Linked DNA regions of Homo sapiens: region 2 is linked to region 1. The links come from fine-mapping of genetic effects on gene expression. A gene starts in region 1. The other region holds a variant in brackets. All regions are shown on one strand. Distances are from middle to middle.

Region 1 (4,275 bases):
GAGAGAAAGGCACCATCCTAACTTCAACAGAAAATTCTCAAGAGCTTTTATTAGATTGAACTGCTTGAAATTACCAGAATTCAACTGTTTTGCCCTACATAATTTAGGGCAACTTCACATATTTCAACTCAGTTTATCACAATTAAACACATTATAGTTAATGATAGCATCTTATTTTGTAAAAAAAAAAAATCTAAAAGTAAAGGGCAAGCACTATTAACATCATAAGCTGGGCCCTATAACATCATAAGCTGGACCCATAAAATATGCCTATAAATACAGAATCCTACCTTTGTCCACCTATGCAACTGAGTGTCATAATAGGTTTCCATTATATTTTAAAAACATTCGTAGTAAGGTTTCAATAGTAATATCTTAGCACTGTTAAAATGTAAGGTCCACTAAAATGTAGGTTCGATGAGAGTAAAGCTTTATCATTTTTATTCTTTGCTGCAACCTAGAACCTAAAAAGATGCCCATAATAGACATTTATTTAACAACAAATATTTATTGAGTACCTACTTTGTGTCAGACATTGTTTTAGGTGCCTAGGATACATAAGTGAAAAATCAGATGATGATCTTTGTCTTAATAACAAATGTTGAATAAAATAATAAAAATCTGCAAACTGTTCAAAACACTTTATAGATAATATGTAATAAAACCTTATCATATTATATATGATAATCTCATGAGAATTCCATAACCCATGCTTTAATCCCACCAAGATACAAAAGTATCTTGAAAGTAAAATATACTGTACTATCATTACAATTCCTTATTTCATGGAAACTTGAATTATCTTCCAAAAACACATAAGCAAAAAACAAGACCTTCATTAGGCCATAGCATACTGCAGCTGTCCACAAACGGAAAATTATCAGAATCATTTATCAGAGCAAAAGCACGAAATAAACTTCTACTCATGTTATTACATCTGCTTTTTGGTGAATAGGTGACTGAAAAAGTTACCGGCTACCACTTTGCACTTCATCACACAATGTAGAATATTTTACTCCCTGGCATGCAACAATACACAAGACTCAAAAGCTTCTGCTCATTCTTAATTCCAACTGAATCCGTGTAAACTAGGAGACGGGGGAAAGGAGCTAAATCAAGACAATAGGATCTTTCAATTCTGAAGGTTTGTTCTTCATCATAACAAATTAAAAAATCTTGAAACTGTTGTTGCCAATGCTAGTTATTGTGGTTTTTGTCCTTCCTTTGTTTTTAGGTGAATGCTTTCATTACACAGGATAAAATGGGTAAACAGAATAGAGAAAAAGTGAAAGAACTGGGAACAAAGCAAAATCTGGAGTCATGGTTACAGTACAAAGATAAACCCAAAGATAAGGAACCAATACAGGCTCTTCCTCACACAGCGGCCGTGAATAAGTCATCAAATCCTCCGGGTAATCTATTGTACCGGCTCTAAAGCTGGCCAGTGACACTTCCTTAGGAGATGCTCTGACATCCCTCCGACAGAAGATGCTGTCGAAATGTAAAAAGCCGGTTACCTAGGGAAATCGGCCAAGGAATGTCAGGAGCTCGAGGCTGGAGACACACCCCGGGGCTGCAGCACAAAGTGGCCTGTTGGTGTTAAGGCCGTGGACAATAATGGAGAGAGTCCAGTACAAGGAAAACAAAATCTGGCCAGAGACTGGGATCACTAAAAGGGCACTCAGGAGTCAAGCAAGATCAGAAAATGGTAGGAAGAGACGTGCAGGCGTCTTGCCAGGGGCAGGATCTGGCTCCGGGCGGGAAAGCCCAGTTGAAGACCGTCTGAGGCGGGGCAGCCTGGTAGCGTTAGCTCCACCGCATCGGGGACTGTCCGGTTCCCTTCGGCCCCAGCCTCCGGAGGCGCGGCGGGACGCGGCGAGGTCCGCCGCACCGAACCAGCCCTCGCCTTCCTGCTACTGGTGTCCAGGGTCCCCAGCTGTTTCGGGCCCGCTCTAGCCGTCCTGCCCTCATCCCTTCATCGCCTCACCTTCCAGTCCCTCCATCGCGCCACCTCCTCGAGCTCAGCGAGACTCCTTCAGCAGCGCCCGCCACCGCCCAGCTCTGGCTGTAGCAACCCAGCCGCACCTCCCACCCGCTAACATTCCGAGCTCCCATTGGTTCCGCAACTGCGGGGGCGGGGATCCGTGGGGGCGGGGCCGCGGCGGAGGCGAGGTTCCTGCGGTCTCCTCCTGGCTGCCACCCCTGTCCGTCTCTCCGGGTTACTCTCCAGGGAGCCGGGAGCCGCTTCAGGTTGCAATCTGCGATGCAACGGCGCCTTTGTTTGACTCCAGCCTTGTTTTGCCTCATACCTTATCCTCCTATTTAGAGTACCTCAGCACCTCATGGGCTCCGCTTCACCAGTTCCTCAATCAGTCAATGCCTCTGACTTCTAGCCGCCATCCCTCCCAGTGGATACTTTAAGCAGGCAAGCAAACCAAACAAACGCCCAGCACGCTTGCATGCAGCAATCTCCGTTTTCCGGTCTTTGGTCGCATGACTTGACCTCAGCGTATCCCCTACACTTGATCTTCACACACAGCTTCATAGGTTAAGACACTTTTTTTCCAGAGAAATCATACTTTCTATCTGCGATTGTGGAACTGCGATTGCTCTAAGCCCTTGAAAACAGTTTCCTCACCATGAAAGCTTGGGCCAAAAATTAGAAGTGAAACCCAGCCCTCCCTCTGTCTTCTACTCTTGGCCTACCTTGGCCCTATACTTTATCATCCATAAACCAAAACAGTCGCCTGGCCTGACAATGTTTGATCGGGGAAGTTTGAGTTGGGGAATTAACCTACAACCTGACAGAATGAGGCCCGCCCGTCTCTAACAGAGTTCAAAACCTCCTGAAGATGAAAGTAACTTCAAAACTAACTCAGACCATTTTAACGGTTTTGCTTACAATTACCAGAACTACATTTCTTTGAAAATTTGATTTAGCAATCGTAAACAAGCTGTACTGTTTGCTGACTATAGCGTATCTACTGGCAAGTTACCAGTATTAATGTGTTGTCCATAACAAACCTCGGATTAATGTTATTGTTAATCTGTTTAATTGAAGAGTTTAACTTCATATCTAACTTCATCTACTATGAAATCAGTTACCTTCAGGAAGCAGGATTCCTCCTACTCTCCACTCACATGAAGGTATGTTTAAACAAGCAAACACTTGAGGGGGCATCATCTCTTACTGAGAAGGTGCTCCAAGTGCATTTGAATGTGGTAGAGTCCATCTGTTGTGTGGAGCCATGTAAAGACCACTTCAACCATGCCTCAATGACTCCCTCCGCCCTTCCCTGGTTCCCCTGGCTCTTCTGCTTCTCTGAGATCCTGGGCCTCCTTGGCCAACCCATAGCCTTGCAGGCAATAAGCTACTCTAGACTGGGTGCTGCGGAAAGGTCCTTTTTCTTCCTTAGTGCTACTAAGGCAAAGGTAGAATTTTTGGTTGGGAGGGAAGGCCTTTTAAAAGAGCATTAAGGAGAAAAAAAAGCACACAGAAGAAAATACAAAAATAAGGAAGCCATTATTTTACAAATTACAAGTTCTTTCACTGAAGGCAAGACGAATATTGAGTTGGCTGATACCTTATTCGACATAAAATCTACAGTAACATTAAAAATAATAAAAATAGCATTAAAGAATAAATCATGTGAGGCATGTTTTAGGCCATTTTCATATATTCACAAATCTTCAAAAGAAATCTACAAAGTAGATACTACAATCTTCATTTATCAGAATTAAAATGTTCATTTTCTAGATGTCTCAGAGCAATTAATATTTTGTCAATATTTGTATTATTAGTGGATGGTAGAGCTTGGCTACACTCTTGTCTGTTAAATTCTAAAGCCTATGGTGATTTGATTGGGCTCCTCACTCCCTTTCCTTGCCTTGCCTTTTATTATAGCTGCCTCAAGTGTAAACCCAAGCGTTCAGACATGTTGTTTAACATATATTTGAGTAGGCATTTCTATTGTGAATCTTAATTCTCTAAAACATGATTGCTAGTCTTCCCTACAGGTATCTTCATAACTTTTATGCTTTTGGTCTCTTCATAACTTTTACGCTACAGCTACCCTGGCTCCTGCAGCTTTTCCCTGATTCTGACCCCTGAGTAAAGAGGACTTCTTCCTATCTGCCTTCAATAAGTTCTTTCCTCTGCCGCCTACATACCTAGCCTGAGAGTCTTGTCTTGGCACTGTATCATGACATTACTTCCTCTCCAGTCTAATCCATTTTTCGGCATGCATTCATTCAACAAATGTTTGTTGAGTACCT
Region 2 (4,275 bases), 30 kb before region 1:
GGGCAACAGAGCAAGACTCCGTCAAAAAAAAAAAAAAAAGGTTAAAAGTAGAAACTACTCAAAGTTATCTTATTTTAAAAAATAATTACTTAACTTCTACATCTCTTCTTAATTATAAATCTATCTTAATATTCCAGAATAGACCACTATCTTTATTTCCTGCTCTGCCAACATGGTTTCAAAAACAAATCAAGTTGCTTTTCGGCTATCATTACCTACAACAGTTTTGCCAGCGCCACTTGGCTGCGGTAATCGTGAAGATCCTGATGATGCAGTTCCAGGAGAATTTGACTTTTTAAGTGCGGGTGGCTTATACTAAAATAATGGAAAAAAAATATTAATCAACATCACTTTTTGATTATGGATTGTAAAGTAGTGGTTCAAAACTTAACATTCTTTGGGTTTAGGATTTCAGCCTTACAAGATGAAAAGAGTTGTGGAAATGAATGGTGATGATGGTTGCACATCATTAATGTATTAAAACACTTGTAAGTATACACTGAATTGTATTCTTAAAAACGATTAAGATGGTAAAGTTTATGCTACATGTATTATACCACAGTAAAAAAATAATTGGAAAGAAACAGCTCACATTCCCTTAAATGAACAGTCTTTTCTACTGAATTATACAAATTGAGGAAGTATAGATTAAAATATATCACCTCAAAGGTTTTCCAAACTAGACTCCCTCTCAGATGCTCCACTGCTAAAACAAACTAACAGCAACTTTTTCAGTTCACAGGAAAAAGAAAAAAAGGTCTAACGGAAAAAACTTCCTCAAAGTTAAGATTTTAAACACCAAACAAACATTAGTAGAAAAACTTAGAAACAGCTATGGTGCAGCTTTAAAGGTCAAGATTTTTATATGTTCCTGGATGTGTTTTTATATTCCATATATATAATTCAGCCATATTTCCTACTGATAAAAACCGTAAGATGACCTAGGACCTGAACAAGTTTTACAACAGCTGCATTATGGATTTCCCTGATATGAAGAGAAAGAGCTAATTCTGGCTTCACGATCCTCACCAGACCATCTTAAATTAATGGAGTATGCATTGACCTAAGATCTTTCAGCTTATCTTGGATTTTTATATTTCTCTACTCCTCTAAAGAGACATCTTTATTAATTTTATTTTACTTTCTCTTTTTGAGCCAAATTTTGCTCAGTTACCTGACAATAAAAGTATCTTACTGATCACCTGCTTCAATAGCAAGAAATGAACTTGCCCAGGGTTATGCCCCAACTTCACAGCAGAGCAGGAATTTAGACTCATGCTGGTTCTAGCCCAATGCTTCAACCATAAGGTGAAAATCATACTTGCATATGTGCTTGGAATGTAGCCCAATACGGTATCAAGATTTCATGTGAAAAATTGGTTTTAACGGGCTGGGCACGGTGGCTCATGCCTGTAATCCCAGCACTTTGGAAGGCCGAGGCAGGTGGATCACAAGGTCAGGAGATCGAGACCATCCTGGCTAACACAGTGAAACCCCGTCTCTACTAAAAATACAAAAAATTAGCCGGGCGTGGTAGCGGGCGCCTGTAGTCCCAGCTACTCAGGAGGCTGAGGCAGGAGAATGGCGTGAACCCAGGAGGCGGAGCTTGCAGTGAGCCGAGATCACGCCACTGCACTCTAGCCTGGCAACAGAGCAAGACTCCGTCTCAAAAAAAAAAGAAAGAAAAATTGGTTTTAAATTATCATTTTCAAAAATCAAATCATATTTTATAACCAATAATCAATATAAAATTTAAGATGCACTACTACCAAAAATAGCTAGCTAAAACCAATTTTGAAGTCAAACATTATATCCTTCTAACTCTGTATGTGAATTTTTAAAAAGTTAAATCTTGATAAACGGTCACACAAAAAAAGTAGCATTCACGTTTTGCAGTATTATGCCAGCACCTGAAAAATAGAAAACCAAAACCTTCAGTAAATGTCTTTCAAATTAACAAATGTCTATGAGACTTTGGGAGATGAACCATATAATGATACTGATTTTTTAAAACCTTAGAGGTGCTTCTGGTTTAAAAGGGCATCTGGGCCACTATATATATA[T/G]AGAGAGAGAAAGACAGACATTAGAAAAGACTTAAAATTATAGCAATAGGGAAAACAAGCTCTAACAAAAATTTGTTAAACTACGAGAGTTATGTCTATAAAAACAGAGTTAATAAAATCAGATTAGGAAACAAGACTGCTGACCCACTCAAACTGTACAATCAAAAAAGAGCAAAATGATTAGCATAAACAAAGTGCGCTGATGTGGCCTATTACATATTGAGAGGTCAAGTCTTTAGGCAGGAAACAGGCAGAAAGGTTCCTGGTAGCATTACATAATGGAGACTAAAGATTTTTATGTATATAATAGGAATTATTAACAACTTAATGGCTTCCAAATACTTAGGCAGAACATGTCTCCAAAAAATGTTTTGCTTTCTCCCTCTCTATATAAGACTTCCCACTATTTTACTAAATTTTATTGTTGAGTTTTCTGAGCTATTCAGAACCTAGAACAACCTTACTTATATCCTATAATATTTCCCATTACTTTAGACAAGAACTAGTCAGGTTAGTTTCCTTTCCGAAAACTGCTTGTTTAAAACATTATTCACCTCCCCCTCGGTATCTTGCTGTTTTCCCTGACCTAGATAATCTGACTCCTTCCTTTCTGAGCTATATTCTATCTATTCTACAACATCAAGCTGAAAGTCTACTGGTATATAAAGACTTTCAGAATGACTCTATCAATCAACGGTTTTGTGTGCTATTATGAAGACTTTCAGAATGACTCTATCAACCAACAATTTTGTATAAATCCATTTTAATGACCAGGAGAATGAAATGATTTTATACAATTACATTCAACGTATTTCTTTCATTCATTATTATTTGGTAATTATTATTTTGTGTTTTTATGCTGCTCACAAATCTCATACATTTCCTTACAAAAATATTTATACAAAGACTAATGACTAATGAAATTGGAAAAAGTCTAAAGAACTTGTAGGACATCCATTTCTGACAAAATGGTAGAACTTACTATTTAGACCAACCTTTCAATTAACAACTAAAAATGCTCAGGAAAGAATAAAAAATCATTGTAAAAGCACTGAATGTCAAATGAGAGGAAAAGAAATTTCCAGGCCAAACCATATGGAATTGTAATAACGACCTGAACATCACATGGATTTGCTGTATAAATTTGCATTATTAGGCTGGTCAAGCAAACTAAGCCAATAATTTAATTTCAAATGTTTCCAGACTGATAAGACTCATAGATACCTAAAAGGAATAAGCACAGCACACATCTTCTCTGGAAGAAGGCATGAATGATAATCATGAATACCGTTTTACTTGTAACAAGCAGCAAAGGTCAATAATAATCAGGGAAATAAGGATATAAGGAAACTGAATGAGAAAAAAAAAAAAACAAGGAACATATCCATACAAGTCACTTGATATTGCTATAATTATCAGACACACATTACAAACAACTATGAGTACTACATTTAAAGAAATAGCAGACAACTATGAAAATATTAATGGAAAATTGCAAACTATAAAAAATAGGAAATTAGAAAAATAGCCAGCCAACTGCAAGAAATTAAAAACACAAAACAGAGATATAGACCAATGGAACAGAACTGAGCACTCAGAAATAATGTCACACATCTACAACTATCTGATCTTTGACAAACCTGACAAAAACAAGAAATGTGGAAAGGATTCCCTATTTAATAAATGGTGCTGGGAAAACTGGCTAGCCATATGTAGAAAGCTGAAACTGGATCCCTTCCTTATACCTTACACAAAAATTAATTCAAGATGGATTAAAGACTTAAGTGTTAGACCTAAAACTATAAAAACCCTAGAAGAAAACCTAGGCAATACCATTCAGGACACAGGCATGGGCAAGGACTTCATGTCTAAAACACCAAAAGCAATGGCAACAAAAGCCAAAATTGACAAATGGGATCTAATTCAACTAAAGAGCTTCTGCACAGCAGAAGAAACTACCATCAGAGCGAACAGGCAACCTACAGAATGGGAGAAAATTTTTGCAATCTACTCATCTGACAAAGGGCTAATATCCAGAATCTACAATGAACTCCAACAAATTTACAAGAAAAAAACAAACAACCCCATCAAAAAGTGGGCAAAGGATATGAACAGACACTTCTCAAAAGAAGACATTTATGCGGCCAAAAGACACATGAAAAAATGTTCATCATTACTGGCCATCAGAGAAATGCAAATCAAAACCACAATG

Alleles and levels. Alleles are on the strand shown, and positions count from the first base shown. SD is a standard deviation of normalised expression in the study named.
In carriers of allele G in region 2, the expression in Th2 cells of the gene that starts at base 2,063 in region 1 tends to be higher than with T alone (large effect, 1.1 SD a copy in Schmiedel 2018).

What was found. PIP is the estimated chance that this variant, and not a neighbour inherited with it, causes the effect.
Region 2: its variant is fine-mapped to the expression of ZC2HC1A in Th2 cells (Schmiedel 2018, PIP 0.93).

Annotation. Positions count from the first base shown.
Region 1 is chr8:78,663,877-78,668,151 of GRCh38, reverse strand. It overlaps ZC2HC1A (zinc finger C2HC-type containing 1A), which reads right to left and starts at 2,063. Exons shown (of 9, transcript NM_016010.3): 1 at 1,988-2,063. The coding sequence starts at 2,003. It overlaps LOC105375911 (a long non-coding RNA gene), which reads left to right and starts at 2,173. Exons shown (of 4, transcript XR_007060972.1): 1 at 2,173-3,147. RefSeq lists enhancers at 1,910-1,959, 1,924-2,431, 2,432-2,940 and a silencer at 2,030-2,249.
Region 2 is chr8:78,693,447-78,697,721 of GRCh38, reverse strand. ZC2HC1A (zinc finger C2HC-type containing 1A) reads right to left here. Exons shown (of 9, transcript NM_016010.3): 6 at 216-315. It also overlaps a transcript of IL7 not described here. Among named protein-coding and RNA genes, the nearest start is that of ZC2HC1A, 29 kb to the right of the region's middle. The variant T/G (reference allele first, on the strand shown) is at 2,064.